Homo sapiens: one gene and its partners. The protein of the gene in region 3 interacts with the protein of the main gene of each other region in a biochemical or structural test. Each region holds a gene or a part of one and is shown on either strand. Other genes may lie near its edges.

Evidence for each region. Proteins that work in one complex are often made in the same cells at the same time.
Region 1: the proteins of ELF3 (region 3) and PAK1 form a complex in vitro, tested with the Homo sapiens proteins (one study listed by BioGRID).
Region 2: of the proteins of ELF3 (region 3) and PRKCI, one has a biochemical effect on the other in vitro, tested with the Homo sapiens proteins (one study listed by IntAct).

Annotation. Positions count from the first base shown.
Region 1 is NC_000011.10:77,352,095-77,360,594, reverse strand, and holds part of PAK1 (serine/threonine-protein kinase PAK 1), read left to right. Parts: intron 1-1,577; coding exon 1,578-1,697; intron 1,698-4,752; coding exon 4,753-4,927; intron 4,928-6,995; coding exon 6,996-7,059; intron 7,060-8,500. UniProt on the Homo sapiens protein: Protein kinase involved in intracellular signaling pathways downstream of integrins and receptor-type kinases that plays an important role in cytoskeleton dynamics, in cell adhesion, migration, proliferation, apoptosis, mitosis, and in vesicle-mediated transport processes.
Region 2 is NC_000003.12:170,300,924-170,306,477, forward strand, and holds the end of PRKCI (protein kinase C iota type), read left to right. Parts: intron 1-2,116; coding exon 2,117-2,204; 3' UTR 2,205-5,054; downstream 5,055-5,554.
Region 3 is NC_000001.11:202,012,236-202,019,333, forward strand, and holds the end of ELF3 (ETS-related transcription factor Elf-3), read left to right. Parts: intron 1-108; coding exon 109-201; intron 202-404; coding exon 405-524; intron 525-615; coding exon of another isoform or gene 616-665; exon of another isoform or gene 666-711; coding exon 712-801; intron 802-946; coding exon 947-1,063; intron 1,064-1,593; coding exon 1,594-1,789; intron 1,790-2,973; coding exon 2,974-3,088; 3' UTR 3,089-4,948; downstream 4,949-7,098. UniProt on the Homo sapiens protein: Transcriptional activator that binds and transactivates ETS sequences containing the consensus nucleotide core sequence GGA[AT]. Acts synergistically with POU2F3 to transactivate the SPRR2A promoter and with RUNX1 to transactivate the ANGPT1 promoter.

The sequences.
Region 1 (8,500 bases), on a different chromosome or scaffold from region 3:
TACAGTATACATCAGGGGAGCTCCAGGGCTACCTGATGATGAAGAGCCTTGCTGAGTCAACTGTATTCCCACATTAGGTTTTTAGTTAAATTTTGTTGAGTGGAATAGTGGGGAGAAAATAAATTAGAGCAGAAAAATATCGAAATACATATTTTGACAGGGAAAGGACCTCTATTGAGTTTTGGAACTTAAAGCGATTTAAGGTCATCTTTCAAATTATAACACTCCTCTTCCTTCACATTCCTCAGGTGATTAAACTTCAAACCAAGAGGACAGATTTATTGCCTATGGTCACCACAACTGCTTATATATGCCCGGCACTGTCAGTTTTTAACTTATGCTTTGTGCTGGAGGCCCTGTTAAAATCTATGCCAGTTTTTCTTACTTTAGTATGTCAAATGTGGTAAAAGACAGTCTCCCACAGTCAGTACCTCTAGTATATTATTCCTTAGTTCTTCCATTTATCCCGTTATTCTGACTCTGGACCTTCCTCTTAGGAGGCTCCAGGTGTCAGGCAGGAGGGGCTCTCATCCTGTCTATCTCCTATACCAGATGGTCACTACTTTAGGACATGGACCATCTTTTTCATCTTTGTACATTTATGTCAACAGTACCTATCACAGTCTTACTGAGCACAAAGTAGGTGCTCTGAAAATACCTGAAACTGTTGAATTATATCAGTATATATTAAAAGATCCCCATTGCCTCTCCAGTTCTTTGCTGATCAAATGATAGAATCATTTGGTATCTATCAAAAATCTCATATTTTGGAGGCATTTTGTCTCTTAATTCTGTGTAATAAACAGTAATGGTATGCTATTTTTGCCTGGACCTGCCCTAAAACCTGCCACTCTTGGCCCAGCTCTCTTATAGTTTGCATGGGGAAATCAGGTTGTCACAGATTGTAAGCAGATCTAATTAGTGGTAAGTTCCATTCCAGGGTAGGGCAGAAACTTAGGGAAATAGTATCCAGTCTGGGGAGAAATTCATTGTTCTCTTTAGATAACATGATCCTGATGCTGATGTTCTTTATCTTCAGGTTGAGGTGAGGACCCCTGGTAATGTAATGGGTTCAGGAGATTTTTGCAAAGAGAGGAAAAGGGCAGGGCAAAAGCCTGTTTAGACTGCCATTTACCATATCAGGAGAGAGTAAGAAATTATAGTGATGAATTTTGAAAAATTAGAAACTTTTGATCTCTTCCCTACATTTCATACTTTATTTCCTGTTCAGTGTGGAGAGAAAAATTCATAGAATAAGAAGGTACTGTGAGCTTGTCTTCAGGGGTTGGGTTGGGGGAGAGGCAGGTAGAAAAGCTGTAAGCTAGCTTCCCATTCACAGCTAGGCTTTGAGTGGGAGAAGGAAGCCCCAAGGGACTGAGTGGATAGTGATGGCTAAAAGAAGAGGGAGAAACAGATTGAGCTTCTGAGACTAGCTACACAAAGGTGAGAGCTTGGAGGCTAATGTGTATTTCAGAAGGGATATCAGGATGGGGTTTCTCGTGGGAGGTTTGGTGATCCTGATAGTTAAGTTCCATGGCAGCTGGACCAGATGCATCTTGCTTTTCTTCTTTGCACAGAATGTGAAGGCTGTGTCTGAGACTCCTGCAGTGCCACCAGTTTCAGAAGATGAGGATGATGATGATGATGATGCTACCCCACCACCAGTGATTGCTCCACGCCCAGAGCACACAAAATCTGTGAGTCTTTGGGGACCTGGCCAGTTTTGTGATTTATTAGAGTAAGTGGGGAGAGGGAGGAGTTGGTGCTGATACCTAGAAGTTTAATATTCTGGTAGGCGTCCTTAGATTTTGGAGCTGGTGAAATCACTGAACTACCTTGACTAAAGGTACTTTCTGTATGATTAAAGACAAAAAATCATGTGTTTATTTATCATTGGTTTGCAGATAGTCCCAAAGTGTCCTAGGTAATTGATGTTTATACCAGTCCAGTCTCGGTTCTCCACAGATAGGACAGGAAGATATATAGGATTGATGCTACTTAGTGCAGGACTAACATAAATTATTCCAGTCTCCAGGGAAGCAACAAATTGTCTTGCTACAGATCTTTTCTTCTCTGTTAAATGTGCAGTGTTCAGCCTCTTAGAGCATTATTGATAATATTGAAAGACCCAAGAGAATATATAAATACATTAGTGCTATTAATATGCTGGGCATCAGGAGTGCATTTTGATGCCGGATGTTGGCAGTGATTTCTATTTAACTTCCTTTGAGGTTCCTGCATCTCTGAGAATAGCCATGGTCCCTCTAACCTTGCTTTGAAACATCTAGTCCCTGTGCCTTTTACTTAATTTGGCATCACTGAGCACTGACCTACCATCAGATGATACTCTACTAGTGTTTCTTTGTTTAGGTCTTTTACTAAGATGAGAGCTCCATAATGAAGGAACCATCTAGCACTTCTGTGATCATGAAAGAAAAAAAAAAGGGCTACCTCTGGAATACAGCATTCAGGGAGGTGTTCAAACAGAAATTGGTTGAATGACTATTGGAGATGCTGTGGAGGAAATTCAAAGGAATTATATGACCTATTAGGATGAGAACTTACAAACAGAATCTGTGGAATCATCTCTGTAGGTCACAAAGTTACCTCAAGGGAAAATGCGCTTCAAAATTGGAGAGTCGTTAACACTGATATGGTTTTTTTTGGTTTGTAGACATGTTCATTTAAAACATTTTTTTCCCCACTAAACCATGAACACCTCAAAAAGTAGAGGAAATCCATATGTATGTATTTCTAGTGCTTAACATAGTTCTTGGCACCTGCAGAGGTGGGTAAATATCAGAGGACAGTAAATATTGAATTAATTAATTAATTGATCTTCATAGCATTTCTTTCTAAAAAGGTATTGGTAATTCCTAATTTATAGAAGAAGCAGCTGAGATTTGGAGAGGTGAATTGATCTGCCCAGTCTCTTAGTAAACAAAAGAGCCAGGATTTGAAAGCAGGTAATTAACCCCAACTCCAGGTTGTTTTCCACCATAGCACAGTGGTATTTTTGTGTGTACAAACCTGTGCTAGGAGCCAGAGAAGGAGACTATTAAAGAAGGAAAAGGCAAGGTTTCTGTCTTCAAAGAGATATATCAGGACAGGCAAAAGAGGACAAGGCATGGAAGTACAGGTTTAGGTGCCTGGGATATAGTTTGTCTACAGGTACAAGAATAGAAAATTGAGAAATCATTATGCTAGAGTAGTAATCAGGAAGGAAGCCATTGCCTCTGATCTCAGCGTCTTGGCTTATTGCTGTTCCCACTACTGGAATGTTCTCTCCCATTTCCACCTATTAAAAGCCTGTCCAGTCAAAAGGTAGCATGGTCAAGCAGTCCAAGGTGCAGGATGTAGTTGGCTTTAGTCTCTGTGGAGCCATGGGTTTGAGTCCCACTGTTGCCAATGGCTTTGCATCATCGCAGATAAATGATCATCATAGATAAATGATCCTCTATCTTTGTAGAAACCTATCCGTCCTTCAGGATCCAGTTGCAGGATCCTGTTTGTTTATTTATTCCATCAAATATTTACCTGAATGCTTGCTTTCTTTTAGTAAGTGGTTAGATGGAGGAACTCACGGATGAATGACCCACATTCCCTGTCCTTATACTGTTTATGGACTATGCAAAAGATAATTGTGATATTTTTATGATAAAATCTGTTAAATACCTTGAAGCATCTCCTGGGGAAAGGAAGTATAATTTATGATCACTTCTGAACCTCAGTAGTATATAGCTTGCTTATTTCTTTATAACATGTATCACTTTCTGCCTTGTAGTTATGATTTTCTCACCTCCTTTATAAGAATGAGAGGTTGGGGCAGCATTTTGTACAGGGTGAGGCAACAAATAGATTCTCAGTAAATGTTTGTTATGTAAATGAATGAATAGGACATTTAATATTTTTAAAAGGTAAAATTTGAGTGCTTAATGTCTGCTGGGGATGAGTCTGATTACCTCACATATTAATCAGTTTACTCCTACAGCAACCCCAAAAGATAGTTATCATTATTATCACCATTTTATAGATGAGGAAACTGAAACACAGAGAAGTTAAGTAACCTGCCCAAAGTCATGCAGAAGGTAAGAATAATAAGAGTTGGGATTTAAGTTCAGGCAGTCAGGTTCCAGAGTCCATGTTCTAAATCATCACACTCTACTACCTCTTGATGAAGAACAAAAGTAGTTCCTTCCCTGCAAGGGTTCAGGATGTAAGGAGGGAGTAACTCAATAGAAGTTGGTGTTGTACTAGTAATGCAAAGTGCTATTTGCATTACTACAGGATATGTCTTTTAACTTGGGGAAGCATAAAATATTACAAATGAAGGGGATTCTTACCTAATAGAATTGTCTTCAACTAATTTCTTTTGTTACAGAATATTTCTTTTAGCTTGGGGAATACAGGATATTTCTTTTAGCTTGGGGAAGCATAAAATATTACAGATGAAGGGGATTCTTATCTAATAGAATTGTCTTTAACTAATTTCTTTTGATAGTTGTCTAGCCTCTATTGAATATCTTTAGTGCTGAGACTCTCACTTCTTTTGTTTACAGTGAGAGTAAGGAAGGCCATTTTACCCAGAATGGGTGGGCCTGGGCACAGAGGAGGAGTAATATAGATTTTGACATAAGAGAAAGGATGAGTTTATTGGGGTTTGCTCTGTGGATGTTCTAACCTCACATCTAGGAGAGGTTCCCCTATGCTAACAAAGGCTGGTCTTGCCAAAATTTTGCACTAATAATGCAGGTATACACACGGTCTGTGATTGAACCACTTCCTGTCACTCCAACTCGGGACGTGGCTACATCTCCCATTTCACCTACTGAAAATAACACCACTCCACCAGATGCTTTGACCCGGAATACTGAGAAGCAGAAGAAGAAGCCTAAAATGTCTGATGAGGAGATCTTGGAGAAATTACGTAAGGAATTTGTAGCTTTCTGAACCTTTCTTCGTTTTATGACTGGTCAAGCACAGAGATTTGCTGGTCGTAGGCTTGGTCCATGCAGCTGGCTGGCCATGCTTGGTACCTTAGGCACAGACTGCTTCTCCTCACCCTGCCCCTGAACCTCCCTTCCCTGTCTCACAGCCCTGGTTGGATACTATGTTAGGATGGAGATGTGGTGAGAGTGTGGATAGCTTACTTTGAGGGCAGGGCATCCCTCACCCCTAGGCATGTATTATAGCGAAGACAAATAGTTTTTCTCTAATGAATAGCCTAGAATGCCATGTTGAGAAAGACTGAGGACCTAGTGGAAAAGGGCACTGTGATCAATTATTGATGTTTTGCCATTGACCTAGGAGAAGACGCATCTGCCATCTTGGTTGTAGGAAAAGAGGGAAGGGAAGTTAACATTTTATGAACCTATAGTATGTATCAAATGACAAGCAAAATATTTTCTTGATTTTTTTTAAATTTAATTCTCTTATTAACCCTGTGAAGAAAAGCATTATGATCCTAATTTTTGCAATGAAGATATCTGAGGCTCAGGGAGGCTAAATATCCTGCCCAAAATCACGCAGCTAAAAAGTGACATGGCTGAGGTTAGAACACAGTTTTTGTTCCTGTAAGTAGAGCATACTGCCTCTTGCTGTCAAGTGGAAACTTCCATTTTACTTTCTTTAGCTGCCAGAAATGGGGGTATGTTAGGGTAGCTTATTTCTGTGTTTCAGTAAACTGCAGAAGAATTCATGTTAGAAGGAAGAACTAGGTTGATCTGTGGGCTTGGAAGAATCATTTGACAAGGGCTTTAATTTATTCACTGTATCTACTTACTTCCAAAAAGGATTTGATGTGACCGATTTGGCGACGTCTGCAAACTGGCATTGCTTTGTGGTTCTCTAGTTCTTCCTGATTAATTCCTATATGACTTTAAAACAAATTTTCACTGTTTTAAAAATTGCCCTTTTCTGGATCCCTCATAAAATGACAAAGTAAGAAAAGCCACTTACCTAGTCATCTGTTTACTCCTGTATGTAGTCTTGTTCTCTAAACCAGAGTTTTTTGTTTTGTTTTGTTTTAACAATAACACTTAGAATTATGACTTAGAATTAAGACTTGGCCTGGGAGTTAGGACACTTGAGTTGAAGCTTCTGCTCAGCCACTGACTTGTGTCTTAGGCAATTTTCTACTGTTCTCTAAACCTCATTTTTCTCATTTTTAAAATAGGGATGTTAATACTTGTCTCATTTGCAAATCAAATGAGGTAATATATGTGAAAAGTACCAATTCCTAGTAATTGGGTATTAATGGAGAGCACATTGGACCGGGAGACTAAAAATGAAACTCCTAATCTTAGCTCTGACACCAATTTGCTGTGTGACCTTGGGGGGGAAGTATCTTCTTCCCTTCTGTGGGCCTCAATTTCTCCATCTCTAAAATACAAGTTATAAAACCCAGTGGAAAACCTCTATGTCGTTGCACTTGAAATATTCTTTGTTGTAAACCTCTTCTCTACTTTATCTCTCTGGCTTTTACTTAAAGTGGAAATCAGTCCATATATCACCTTTCTGAAGTTTTTCCAGTCTTTTTTTTGTGTGTGTGTGCCTCTTTCTGTACCCCTTTGGCTTTTATCACAGCAATTATTATATTTTCATGGAACTTTATGCTTACTTATCTGTCTCCTCCATGAAATTGACCTTCTTGAGAGCAGGGACTGCCTTGACTGTGTCATATCTCTTCATTCCTAACACAACATATGGCTTGGTGCGTATTAAATGAGTAAATATTTACTGAATGGATTAATTAAAAAATGAATGACTTTTAGGAGTTTAGAAATGGAATAGCTTACTATGAATCAAAGCAGTCAAGGTGATGAAACTTTTGGTTGAGACTTATGGGGGAAAAGCTGAGGGCCTGTTTAGCATGCTTTTTGGCTATTGGAGGTAGTTCTTTAACCCTTGCCAGCTACAGGGGTTGGGGAAATGTGGAACCTTTTTTGTATCTTGATTTGGGAAAAAATGATTCATGGTCTCTGTTTCTTTCAAAGGAAGCATAGTGAGTGTGGGCGATCCTAAGAAGAAATATACACGGTTTGAGAAGATTGGACAAGGGTTAGTAGGGGCATTTTCTTTCCCTGGAGAAATGACTTTAAAGTGTGTGTGCCGGCATATATGATTTTGCTTTTTTTTTGCCTCTCATAAACCTTGTTCTTCTTTCTCCACTTTACCCCTCACCCATCTGGAGTTGTTATGTGAGACTGACTTGAGATTTGGCAGAATTATGCTTAATATGAGAGAGATGCCATTAGCTGACCATGTTGCTAAAAATACCCCTGCAGTGACAGTGAGAGAACGGTTTTTTTTCTTAGCACAAAACCAACTTCCCAAATTACAACTCTGCTTTTCCGGATGAACCCTGTTTGTCCTAGTGCTGAGATCCACCAGCACTAATATAAAATGGAAGACCCAAAACTATAAATCCTTCTACTACTGTGATAGGACCTGTTTTTCTAGGTAGATGCCAGAATTTATCCTTCTTGCATTCATCCTTCTCTGTATCTTATATGCTGCCCTCAGTGTAATGAATTCAGCAAGTCTTAACTGAGTTCCTATTGTGTGCAAGGCACTATGAATTCAGAGACAATCTCTGCTTCCAAGGACCTCAAGTCAACAGAAAAAGATAGGCAAACAATTGTATAGTCATATGTTGCCTAACAAAGGGGATATGTTCTGAGAAGTGCATCCTTAGGCAGTTTTGTCATGTGAGCGTCATAGAGTGAACACAAAACTAAATAGTATAGCCTACTACACACCTAGGCTATATGGTATAGCCTCTTGCTCCTAGGCTACAAGCCTGTACAGCATGTTACTGTACTGAATACTGTAGGCAATTATAACACAATGGTGGTTGTATATCTAAACATAGAAAAGATACGGTAAAAATACAGCATAAAAGATAAAAAAAAGGTATATTTATGTAGGGCACTTAACATGGATGGAGCTTGTAGGACTGGAAGTTGCTCTAGGTGAGTCAGTGAGTGGTGAGTGAATGTCGAGGCCTAGGACATTACTGTGTACGCTACTGTAGACTTTATAAACCCTGTACACTTAGACTGTACATTTATTAAAAAACAAAGTAATTGTGCTATGACGTTACAACTGCTACAGTGTTACTGGGTGATAGGAATTTTTCAGCTCCATCATAATCTTATGGGACCACCATCATATGCGGTCCATCGTTGACTGAAACGTCGTTATGTGACACATGACTGTCTTGTGTTTTTAAAGTGTTTGGCTGTTATTTTGAGTGAAAGAAGCTAGATATGAAAAAGCAGATACTGTCTCATTTGATTTATATGAAATTCAAGAACAGGCAAAAGTAATATATGATAATAGAAGTCAGAATAGTGGTTATTTCTGGGAGGAGGATGTAGAGTGGGAATAGGCATGAAGGAATCTTCGGGGGTAATGACTGTAGTGTCTTTTGAAAGTGGCCATTATTTTGAGTGAAAAAAGCCAGATATAAAAGAGCAGATACTATGTCATTCTATTT
Region 2 (5,554 bases), on a different chromosome or scaffold from region 3:
CCCCTTGAGACCAGGATGCTCCATGGTTCTGTTCATGACAGCCTTCTTTTTGCTATATGCAGTTTGTACCTTGGAGATTTCAGCCAGCCCTGTAGCATAGATACCAGCTAATTAAATGGCTCTCAGTTAAATGGCAAATGGTTATTGAGCAAAAGGTGTTATGGTAAATACTAGACATTCAAAGACAATCAAGACAGTCTGATCTCCCCAAAAGCGTGCTGTCTACTAGAGGAGAAAGATGTGTACCAAGTCATTATTTCTGACAGCATTGTGTATTAGAAGGAACACTGGATTTAATCAAAAGATAGGAGTTTGAATCCCGATGCCACCTCTTACCAACTGGGTAACCTTGGATAGGAATTGCATAACTTCTCTGAGCCTGTTCTCAAATTGCCTACCTCATAAGGTTGCTGTGAAGAATAAATGCATGATGGTTTCTGAAGCACTTATCCCCTGCCGTTAGATCTCCTGAGCTGCATTTCTGTTTAACACGGCCCCCAGTTTGTCAGCCAAGCAGCTCAAATATATGAAGTCTAAAATGAAAGTAATGACCCTTTATGATCTCTTTCTATTGTTCTCAATCAGTTCCTTTTTTTTTAGTTACCTAATTCTGCTCACGGTGTGTCCCTGTTGTTCAGATTCCAGATGTCAGTGATTGTGGACTCCTCCTTTTTCTTAACAGATTACATAATACCTGCAGCTGCCAAGTCTTTGTCTGTGTTTTCATTATTTCATCATTTACATCAGATCTTTCTTTTCTCTTCCCGTTGACACACCCTAGTTCAGGCCTCATTCAAGTCATACCCAGAGTATTGTATCAGCCTCCTAATTGATCTTTACTCCTTCACTTTGCAACCTATTCTGTATGCCTTGTGAAGTACCACTCCAATTCTTGAACCCCTTTAATTAGAAACCTTCAGTAACTCCTTCATTGCCTATCAGGTAACATCTATCCTCTTGGCTAGCATTTAAGGCCTCCCCACATCTGCTCCAGCCTGACTTTCTAGCGATACCTCTCACCATAATACAAACAGTGTTCTGATCAGTCTTAGCTACTCACCATTCCCTAGTAGTATTATTGTCTCTGCTTCTGCCTGTTCATTCCTGTGTATCCCGCCTTCATTTTTACCTATTGAAATTTTCCCATCTTTCAGAGCCACCTCAGATGCAACCAGATCTTTGATGGATCAAGGTGAAACTCCTTAGTGTAAACATCACTGGCCTCTTTGATTTAGCCATTATTTTTCTTCAGCATCATCTAACACACTTCTATTCCTGTGCTCCACCCTAATTACTTGCATTTCCCAAGACCTACCACAGTCTTTCATCATTCCATTCATTAAGTGTTTGCAGAATGAATACTGCCTTCCTTGATTTCTCCAACTAGAAGTCACACCTTTCTTTAGAACCATGGTTAGAACAGGACTTAGCTTATTGTGTATAAAATTTAACAAGTACTGCTTTCTCTTCCAGTAGGAATTACCTCCCTTCCTTGAAGGAAGGGACTGTATCCTCTGTAACTTTGTGCTTCTTAGTATGGCATAATACATTTATGTATTAAATATTTGATAGCACTACTCACTGTATATTAAAGTAGAAGCCCAGTGTAACAAAATGCCAACCTCTCCCCTCTCTGTGACCCATGATCTCCCTGCGGTGTTCTCTCCTCATTCCAGGTCTCTCAGTGTACTTGTTCCTATTGCCTTTTCCTTTTGGCTAACTTCTTCTGGGCTACACTATCTAACATCTGGCTGTTGAGGTGACTACTAAATTGAATGCTAATTCAAACCTGGATGTTCACCTGTAACTAGGAATGTTGTTCTGGTCAAAAGTTAAGATTAACTGGAATGGTGACAACTGGTGTCTTTTTTATTCGCAGTCCTCAGTTTTGAACTCCTTTTTGGCTCTAAACTTGCTTGTGGGATTATCGGGGTTTTTTAAATTTTCAGTACTCCATTCTTGATTCGTCTAGAAAATCTGGGGGATTAATCTAAAAATTTATAGATTTCCTTTCAGTACAATTAGCCTAATTACTTGATTTTTAATCTTATTTTACCATTTAAAGGTTGAAGAAATCTTGATTATGATGAAAATAAATTTATTTTTCTTTCAACAGTGACATTGTGAGGAAGATTGATCAGTCTGAATTTGAAGGTTTTGAGTATATCAATCCTCTTTTGATGTCTGCAGAAGAATGTGTCTGATCCTCATTTTTCAACCATGTATTCTACTCATGTTGCCATTTAATGCATGGATAAACTTGCTGCAAGCCTGGATACAATTAACCATTTTATATTTGCCACCTACAAAAAAACACCCAATATCTTCTCTTGTAGACTATATGAATCAATTATTACATCTGTTTTACTATGAAAAAAAAATTAATACTACTAGCTTCCAGACAATCATGTCAAAATTTAGTTGAACTGGTTTTTCAGTTTTTAAAAGGCCTACAGATGAGTAATGAAGTTATCTTTTTTGTTTAAAAAAAAAAAAAACACTGCATTAAAAAAGTATCTGTTGCATTAAGGCACATAGTGGGATTACATCATAAACCTCCCATAATTTTTGTCATTCTGTGTTAAATCATTTCAGGGTTTAATTTTGAAATAAAAGATTAATATAAAATGCAACAACTTTTTATATTACCTATTAGTTTTGGAGTTCTTTATGTTTAAAAATTCAGGTGTAAATTTTATTGCCTTGGATAAATAAATTATTGATCTTTTTTAAGGCAGCAGTTATTAAATTGGTAATAGAAGATGCTGCTTGCTTAGAATTGGGAAATTCGGCTGGGTGCAGTGACTCAATGCCTGTGATCCCAGTACTTTGGGAGGTTGAGGCGGGCAGATCACTTGAGGTCAGGAGTTTGAGATTGGCCTGGTCAACATGGTGAAATCCTGTCTCTACTAAAAATACAAAAATTAGCTGGGCATGGTGGCACATACCTGTAATCCCAGCTACTCGGGAGGCTGAAACAGGAGAATCGCTTGAACCCAGGAGATGGAGTTGGCAGTGAGCCAAGATTAGCCTGGGCAACAGTGAGTGAGACTCGGTCTCAAACAAAAACCAAATTGGGAAATTCTTCTTGAGTTAAAAAAGACACTTTTTATTATGAATCAGATTCCAAATCATTAACTATTTTTGCAAAACTGGCACAAGTGGTTTTTCTTTTTAAGTATATTAACAGGGTAGCTCCTGAGCCTTTCCCTTTATTGGAAACTTTAACTGCAGTGTTAATATATACACTGCAAAAGACCAAGGATGCAGTTGAATGGAAAATTACTCAGTGTATAGAAAGGAAAAAAACCAGAAATTTAAAATAGATACAGAAAAGTACACTGGTAATATTTTTATTTCCTATTGGAGAGTGAATCCCCACAGTTGCTTTTTGTGACTTGATTCAAATGAGGCACTCATTATTGTTACCAAACTTGTAAAAGCATTCCATGTATTCAGTGGAGGCAGAATGTATAATATTTTTTCCTTATAATTTAGCATACAGGAAAAGTATTTATTTTTTAAGTAGGGTATCTTAATTATGCTCATTTCTTCCCCTAAACCACATTATCTATATGATTGGACCCTTTAGTGAAATCAGAAAAATAAAGTAGGCATGAATAAATGTTCAGGACACACACATACACTCACACACATCACAGTATCAGCTCTTTCAGTGAGTTTTTATTAACTAGATAACACATGTAATACATAGTAGAATACATTTCAGAGGCAGAGTTCCTCGGATTATTTTTTATGGATATTAGTGTTCAGCAGCTTATTATTTAAAGGGGTGCCAAATATAGCATCCTTCTGTTGTTTATTTTAAATATATTTTTAATGAAAAGGGACTTAAAAAGTAAACATGATTATCTAAATTACTTAAAATTTTTTAATCTTAGTAAAAATTTTAGGAAAGTTATCTAGTTTAAATTTCAAATGTTTTAAAATTTGTAGGCATTTAATAAATTATCTTTTTTTGGAGGGGTGGATGCTGCATTTCATTGGAAATGTCATTTTTCCAAAGTTTCTAGCTATATACTCTCTTTCCTTCAAATAACATAAGTCTGAAAGCAATGAAAACGTCAAAGGAAAATGTTTATATACATCCACATGTTTATTTAATATGTTTCTCTTAACACCTGAAACTTGTTTTAAAACAAAAAGCAGTATTCACTTCAAATCATAAACTTAGAATTCTGTATCTCATGTCAGAAATATGTTTATGGCCTTGCTTTTAAGTGGTGCTGTTTCCCATAGGGCATTAGTTCTCAGATTTTGGAATGTGAAATAATCACCTAGGAAGTTGGTTTAAAATGCACACTAGTGAGCCCACCTTAGACTTCTTTTGGGGCCTTCGACCTCACTTTGAGAAATACCTTCTTCAGGTTATTCTTTATGTTTGTCCTGTGGTTAAATATTAGAGTATTCATGATAAAACATTTTGAGAAGGGGTAAGCAGTGAGTTATTACCCACAATTTAAAGCAAATTTTGAATGAATCTTTAAGTTAGGTATCTACCTTCCCACCAGCCCCCCAAAAAACCTCTCAGTAGTTTCTTTCAGTGTACAAAATGATGAGCATTTTTCTATGATGAGGTTTTAACCATTATTCAGGGTGGTCTTTTGTTTTTAAATCTTTTTTTAACTAATAAGATTTACGGTGTGTATTTTATACAGAAATGCATTATAAATGTTTTTAATTGTGTTCTGTTTTTTGCAGTCTTTAAGTGCCATGCCAATTGTTCTTATATTCTATAGAAGTTCGCTCAAAATACTCAACAGGGGAATAGGCAGCGGACAGTCAGAATGGTTGGAATTTTGGCTTTCTAAGAAAAACTTTATTTTGCATAAGCATGTGGTCAGATCATTTTGTGCATATGCAGCCTGGATTGGATGTTAAGTAAATGCTTGTTCAGTGCCGGTACATTTACTTAAATCTGTTTTTATTTTTGTCATGTAGAATACTACTGTGGTCATCATAATGTAATCTATTTCTGTACCTTTTTTTTTTTTTTTTACTTTGAAGTCTTTAAATAAAATGTATAATACCCATTGAGAGTGGATCATTTTTCATATGTAGTATGTCAGAAATTTGTATAAGAACAAAGATGCATCAAAATTTGTTCAAGAAAAAGTGAAAATTTCAGAGTTTGGAATTTTGCTGTACTTAAAGCACCATTCTGGTAGAACTGATGCTGTCGTATTTACATTTAATAATGTTACATTTAGCTGGACATAGTGGCTCACACAGCACTTTGGGAGACTGAGGTGGGAGGATCACTTGACCCTAGGAGTTTGAGTTCAGCCTGGGCAATATAGTGAGACCCCATCTCTACATACAGAAAAATAAGAAATTAGCCAGGCATGCCGGCAAAGTGCCTATAGTCCCAGGAGGCTGAGGTGGGAAGACTGCTTGAGCCCAGGAGGTTGTGGCTGCAGTGAACTATGATCATGCCACTGCACTCCAGCTTGGGCAACAAAGTGAGACCCTGTCTCTCAAAAAATATTTAATGTTATATTTATTAATGTAGATATTATTAAAAATTAGGAAT
Region 3 (7,098 bases):
TCAGTGTGGCCGTAGGCAGGCCCTGGAGCTCTGGGCCAGCTGCACAGCCAGAGAGAGCCCTTGAGGGAGGGATTAGGGGAGTGTGACCCTTCCTTCCTTCCTTGTCAGCTTCCAGCTCTTCTGATGAGCTCAGTTGGATCATTGAGCTGCTGGAGAAGGATGGCATGGCCTTCCAGGAGGCCCTAGACCCAGGGCCCTTTGGTGAGAACCCGTTTTCTCCTTCCTTCCCCAGCCTGTCTTGTCCCATCCCTGCCCCTCCACAGAGTGCTAGAGATGACCCCCTCCCCAGACTTCTTCCTCCCTCAATTAGAAAAATTGCAGCAGGTCATCAGACCCATGGGCAGCATCACCTGTCCTGGTCTGGTCCCCTGAGCCCTCTCTGAGTTCTCACCTCCTCTTCCCAGACCAGGGCAGCCCCTTTGCCCAGGAGCTGCTGGACGACGGTCAGCAAGCCAGCCCCTACCACCCCGGCAGCTGTGGCGCAGGAGCCCCCTCCCCTGGCAGCTCTGACGTCTCCACCGCAGGTGAGAGCTCTCTCTGGGCCACAACCTCCCTTCCCCGAAGTGTCCCTTGTTCCCTCTGGCTCCCAGCACCATAACTCAGGCCTTCTGGCAGGAACAGGAACAGGCTGGGAAGTGTGTCCTGAGAGCCAGCAGCGTGGTTGAGCAGAGGGTGGGCCGGCAGGGGACTTACTCTGACCCCGCCCCCCAGGGACTGGTGCTTCTCGGAGCTCCCACTCCTCAGACTCCGGTGGAAGTGACGTGGACCTGGATCCCACTGATGGCAAGCTCTTCCCCAGCGGTGAGTCGAGGGAGGTCCCCAAGAGGGCGTCCCATTTAGCAATGCACAGGGGGCCCGGCTCTTCCTGCAGCCTTTTCCTGTAGAGGGGCTACTCTCCCTAACTCCCCTCTTGCCCCTCCTTGACCTTCCACCACCGTCCCCACAGATGGTTTTCGTGACTGCAAGAAGGGGGATCCCAAGCACGGGAAGCGGAAACGAGGCCGGCCCCGAAAGCTGAGCAAAGAGTACTGGGACTGTCTCGAGGGCAAGAAGAGCAAGCACGGTGAGCTCCGGGGGCACGTGGGTCCTCCCTGCGCCGGGCTGAGCGGCTTCCTGGGGCACTGCGGGTTGTTGCAGGTATCCCTTCTCCCGTTTTCTCTGGCCTCCGCATGGCCTTTGGTAAGGCTGTGCACAAGCTGGGGGCTCTATGGTATCGGTCACCACCTAATTGCAGAGCCTGGCTTGGTGGTCCTGGAGAGGAGGAGGAAATAAGGCTCCCAGTGGGAGGCTCATGGTACCAGAGTCCTGTCCACTGACTCCAGTGTCCTGTCCACTGACTCCAGTTCTCTCTGCACTTGGCCACTGTCCTGCCCTCTGGGACACCCTCAATGTGAGGAGGCAGCTGGTGGGTCTTAGGTGGGCTGAGGAGAAAAGCAGTCACTGCAGTACCCGCACAGAGGGCACTGCGGGGTCTCTGGAGAGGCTTGCTGCATGCTGTGGCCAAGTCAGCAGTGCACTGGGGCGGGCAGGGCTGGCTGGCCTTGGGTGAGAGGGGACACCTGGATGGCAAACTGATGGAGGCTGGCCTTGCAGCGCCCAGAGGCACCCACCTGTGGGAGTTCATCCGGGACATCCTCATCCACCCGGAGCTCAACGAGGGCCTCATGAAGTGGGAGAATCGGCATGAAGGCGTCTTCAAGTTCCTGCGCTCCGAGGCTGTGGCCCAACTATGGGGCCAAAAGAAAAAGAACAGCAACATGACCTACGAGAAGCTGAGCCGGGCCATGAGGTGAGCTGGCGGCCAGGACCCTCACGATACAGCCGGACATGGGGACAGGCGCTCACACTCCCACCGCCCTCTTTCTGGCTGCCACTTGGCTTCTTGCAACAGGGCTGAGTCCTTAGAGTGAGGACAACATCTGGGTTGGTCTACTTCATGGATTAAATGACAACATGGAGAAAGTATTAGCCTGGCAGACAGCAGACACAGTGCACTTGAGCTAGCAGCAACATTTCTTGTATCGCCTGTGAGGCTTGTCCTCAGGAAGGCACCTGGAGAGTGGGAAAGGGGGCAGGAGCCGTGCCCACCCAGGGCCTGGCTTTCTCCTCGTTGAAGCACTTAGGTTGTTTTTCTCTGGGCCTCAGTTTCCTCCTGTGTCCAGGAGTACACTAGATCATCTTAAGATCCCGTCCAGCCCTAAAATCATGTACTTACTTTTTTTTTCTTTTTCTTTTTTAAATAGAGGCAAGGGTCTCTACGTTGGCCAGGCCGGTCTCAAACTCCTGGCCTCAAATGACTCTCCTGCCTCGGCCTCTCAAAGTGCTGGGATTACAGGTGTGAGCCAGTATGCTTGGCCTTTTCTTTTTTCTTCTTCTTCTTTTTATTTTTCGAGACAGGGTCTCGCTCTGTCACCCAGGCTAGAGTGCAGTGGCACAATCTTGGCTCGCTACAACCTCTGCCTGCCGGGTTCAAGTGATTCTTGTGCCTCAGCCTCCAAGTAGCTGGGATTACAGGCACCTGCCACCATGCCCAGCTAATTTTTGTATTTTTAGTAGAGACGGGGGTTTCACCATGTTGGCTAGGCTGGTCTCGAACTCCTGACCTCAAGTGATCCGCCCGCCTCAGCCTCCCAAAGTGCTGGAATTACAGGTGTGAGCCACCGTGCCCAGCTCCCTGGCCTTAAAAGTCATGTAATTTAATGATCAGACCCCAGTCACAGCCATAGGATACAAAGAAGCAAAGGCAAAGAGCCCTGTGTCCTGGGCACGGTTACAGGCCAGTGTAGGGAAAGAGCTTCTGCTTGCCAGTGTGAAGAACAGAGGAGTTTAGGAAGTGTGAGTCAGGCTCAGCTTAGTCAGGCAGAGACCAGTGGGCATGGGTTACCTGGGGGTAACGCGGGCCAGGTGGGCGGGCTGGCAGCCTGGGGCCCATTTCCTGCCAAAGCACCTCTGACCATCCTTCTCTTCACCCAGGTACTACTACAAACGGGAGATCCTGGAACGGGTGGATGGCCGGCGACTCGTCTACAAGTTTGGCAAAAACTCAAGCGGCTGGAAGGAGGAAGAGGTTCTCCAGAGTCGGAACTGAGGGTTGGAACTATACCCGGGACCAAACTCACGGACCACTCGAGGCCTGCAAACCTTCCTGGGAGGACAGGCAGGCCAGATGGCCCCTCCACTGGGGAATGCTCCCAGCTGTGCTGTGGAGAGAAGCTGATGTTTTGGTGTATTGTCAGCCATCGTCCTGGGACTCGGAGACTATGGCCTCGCCTCCCCACCCTCCTCTTGGAATTACAAGCCCTGGGGTTTGAAGCTGACTTTATAGCTGCAAGTGTATCTCCTTTTATCTGGTGCCTCCTCAAACCCAGTCTCAGACACTAAATGCAGACAACACCTTCCTCCTGCAGACACCTGGACTGAGCCAAGGAGGCCTGGGGAGGCCCTAGGGGAGCACCGTGATGGAGAGGACAGAGCAGGGGCTCCAGCACCTTCTTTCTGGACTGGCGTTCACCTCCCTGCTCAGTGCTTGGGCTCCACGGGCAGGGGTCAGAGCACTCCCTAATTTATGTGCTATATAAATATGTCAGATGTACATAGAGATCTATTTTTTCTAAAACATTCCCCTCCCCACTCCTCTCCCACAGAGTGCTGGACTGTTCCAGGCCCTCCAGTGGGCTGATGCTGGGACCCTTAGGATGGGGCTCCCAGCTCCTTTCTCCTGTGAATGGAGGCAGAGACCTCCAATAAAGTGCCTTCTGGGCTTTTTCTAACCTTTGTCTTAGCTACCTGTGTACTGAAATTTGGGCCTTTGGATCGAATATGGTCAAGAGGTTGGAGGGGAGGAAAATGAAGGTCTACCAGGCTGAGGGTGAGGGCAAAGGCTGACGAAGAGGGGAGTTACAGATTTCCTGTAGCAGGTGTGGGCTTACAGACACATGGACTGGGCTGGGAGGCGAGCAAAGGAAGCAGCTGAGACTGTTGGAGAACGCTTACAAGACTTCATGCAAGCAAGGACATGAACTCAGAACACTGAGGTCAGAAGCATCCTGCTGTCATGACACCGCTCGAGTGACCTTGACCTTGACCAAGTCTGTCCTGTTTAGGACTGATTTTTCCTATTAGGCTAGGGTTTGGACCTGATGTTCTCAAGATGTCTAGAATTGCATGGCTGGCCTTGTGGAATAGATGGTTTTGCATTCCAGCCAAGTGTGCTGTAAACTGTATATCTGTAATATGAATCCCAGCTTTTGAGTCTGACAAAATCAGAGTTAGGATCTTGTAAAGGAAAAAAAAAAAAAAACAAAACAAAATGGAGATGAGTACTTGCTGAGAAAGAATGAGGGAAGGAGTTGGCATTTGTTGAAAGTGTAGTCTTTTTCTCTTTTTTTTTTAATTGCAACTTTTACTTTAGATTTAGGAGGTCGTGCGCAGGTTTGTTACATGGGTATATTGTGTGATGCTGAGCTTGGGATGCGAATGATCCTGTCACCCAGGTAGTGAGTATAGCACCCAGTGAAACTGTAGTCTCATGCCAGGCACTGTGCTAGCCCACTCTGGCTCATTTAATCCTCTCCTAAGAAGAGAGGAGACACAGCGTCCCCATTTGACAGATGCAGAAAGAGGTTCCACAGGTGTGCCTTGATTCTGTCCTAAAACCGTTTCCCGGAAGCTTTTCCTGGTGTGGGCGCTTCTAACCTAATCCTCAATCGATTCCAGAACTATTACTCTGTTTCCACAGTGATACTGTGTCTAGGTTTTAGGGAGGACAGTTCATTGATGTTACTTAAGAATGCTTTCCAGGTGGAAAGTTCCTTAAGTTTGAGGCTTCAAATTCCATACAGCACATTAAAATCCCATTCATGAGTTTGAAATACTGCTCTGTTGTCTTGGAAATACCAATCAGATTGTTGGCTGAAGTGATGTGGATAAAGAAGGGATCTTAGAAAAACTAAAGCTTGTGTGTGGATTTCTGGAAATGCAGCTTGCTCTGGAGAAGCAAGGAATGGTGGAAAAGGAGAGTGGGGAAGTTGATTGGAGAGGAAAGTGAGGTCATGAGAGAAACCAGAATCCTGGAGCCATTTGGAAAAAGGCTTTTACTTACATTTCCCTTCTGAAGTGTGAGCCAGTTAGACAAAGGGGATGCGGGCCAGGGCGTAGGTCTAGCCTCAGAAGCTGGGGAAGCTTTCACAGCTACTTAGTCTAAAAATGACCCCATTTCTTGGAAATTATGCATTAGACTCTGGTCTAGTTTCCCTAGCCACAATATCTCGGGGTCCTTGCACCCTTAAAAGAGGTGACCCAGCTGGGCGCGGTAGTTCACGCCTGTAATCCTCGTACTTTGGGAAGCCAAGGCGGGAGGATCACGAGGTCAGAAGATCGAGGCCATCATGGCCAACACGGTGAAACCCCGTCTCTACTAAACATACAAAAATTAGCTGGGCATGCTGGCACGCGCCTGTAGTCCGAGCTACTCAGGAGGCTGAGGCAGGAGAATCACTTGAACCCAGGAGGCGGAGGTTGCAGTGAGCTAAGATCATGCCACTGCACTCCAGCCTGGTGACACAGGGAGACTCTGTCTCAAAAAAAAGAAGAGAGGTGACCCAGTGTGGCCTGAAGTCACCTAGCCAAGAAGTGGGGGAGGGGCCTCTAGAGCCCGGGACATGCTTGTTCAGCCTCCCTTGACTCCCAGCCTCTTCAGCTTCTAAAGGAGATCCTAGCAGGGAGGAGGGCTGGGAATATGGCGCTCAGCCCCTTCACCCTCTTCTGGAGGGCTGGGGGCAGGTGCTGCCCGCTGCGTGCTGACCTTTGCCCTGCCATTTGCAGTTTATGAGGCGCTTTCCTCATCCCATTATCTCATTTGATCCGCCCCACAGCTCGCTGAGGAGACCAGGTGTCCCCATTTTACTGACAAGGCTAGTGGTGGGCTGAAGTCACTGACTGGGTGAGAGCGGGGCCAGCTCACAGCATGCCTGCCTCCACGCTGCAGCTCAGTGAGACCACCTGGGCAGGTGGCCTCTGCAGGGCAGCGCCTGGGACAGCCTGGAAGACGGCAGCTCTGGGAGGGACGCCTTTCTCCCCAACAGTTCTCTGCCCTCTCACCCCTCAGGATGCTGCAGAGTCCTGGCACGGGCCCCTGGGCTGGCCTCCGTGCTGCCCTCTCTGTCGGGCACCAGTCACCCTTACCCCGACTCTCACCAGCCCAGGGGCCTCCTAGCAGGAGACGGCCCGGTCTCTCGCCCACCAGAGTCTGCATCCCCTCAGGTGTGTCCTGGGCTGGGGAGTGGGGGTGGGGAGGAAGCCACAGGGCCGGGCTGTTTATATCCCGCCCTGCCGGAGCTGCTGGTCACCTCTTATCTGCTTCTGTGGGATTGGGTGTGTCGCTGAGCAGGTCAGAGGGAGGTCACCCCTCCCGTCGTGTTTGGGTGTGCCTGAGGAGGGGCTGGGGTTGGCCCCCTGGGACAGTTCCTGGCTTATCCCACAGCCCCACCTGTCCCACCAATTCTGGGGAAGTCTGGCTTCTCCTGGGGGAAGTGGGTGAAGGGGTTGCATTTCTGAGGAGTCTGGTTTCAATCTGCTCTCTCTCTCTGCTGTTGTCTGTTTACACATCTCTCTCTCTCGCCGGGCTGTGAGCACCTCTGGGCAAGTGCTGGGGCTTACTCACCTCAGCACCTTGCACAGCGCCTGGCACAGAGGAGGTGCTCGATAAATATTTGCTAAATGGCCCCGTGACTCTCCCTGCCCTGGCCACTACCTCCCCCACACACCACACACATTCATACACACTCATGGGAACCAAAGTCACACACACTCACACTCACAAAGATAAATATTCACAAGCCCTCACTCACATGCCCCTGCACGCACTGCAGACGCTGCCTGCTCTCACACACTCGCATGGACCGTATTCACAACCTCACACACTTGCACACACCAGCGCACGCAACACACTCCCACCTCACAGTCTCACATAGCCACACCCAGGCCTGCCTGCACGACTCACCTCCTCCCTCGGGGTCCTTCTATGAAGCATTTCCTGACCTCCTCTTTGGCCCTTTTCCCCCACCAGATGGGTTCAGCCCTTGCCTCCAGTCAGGACAG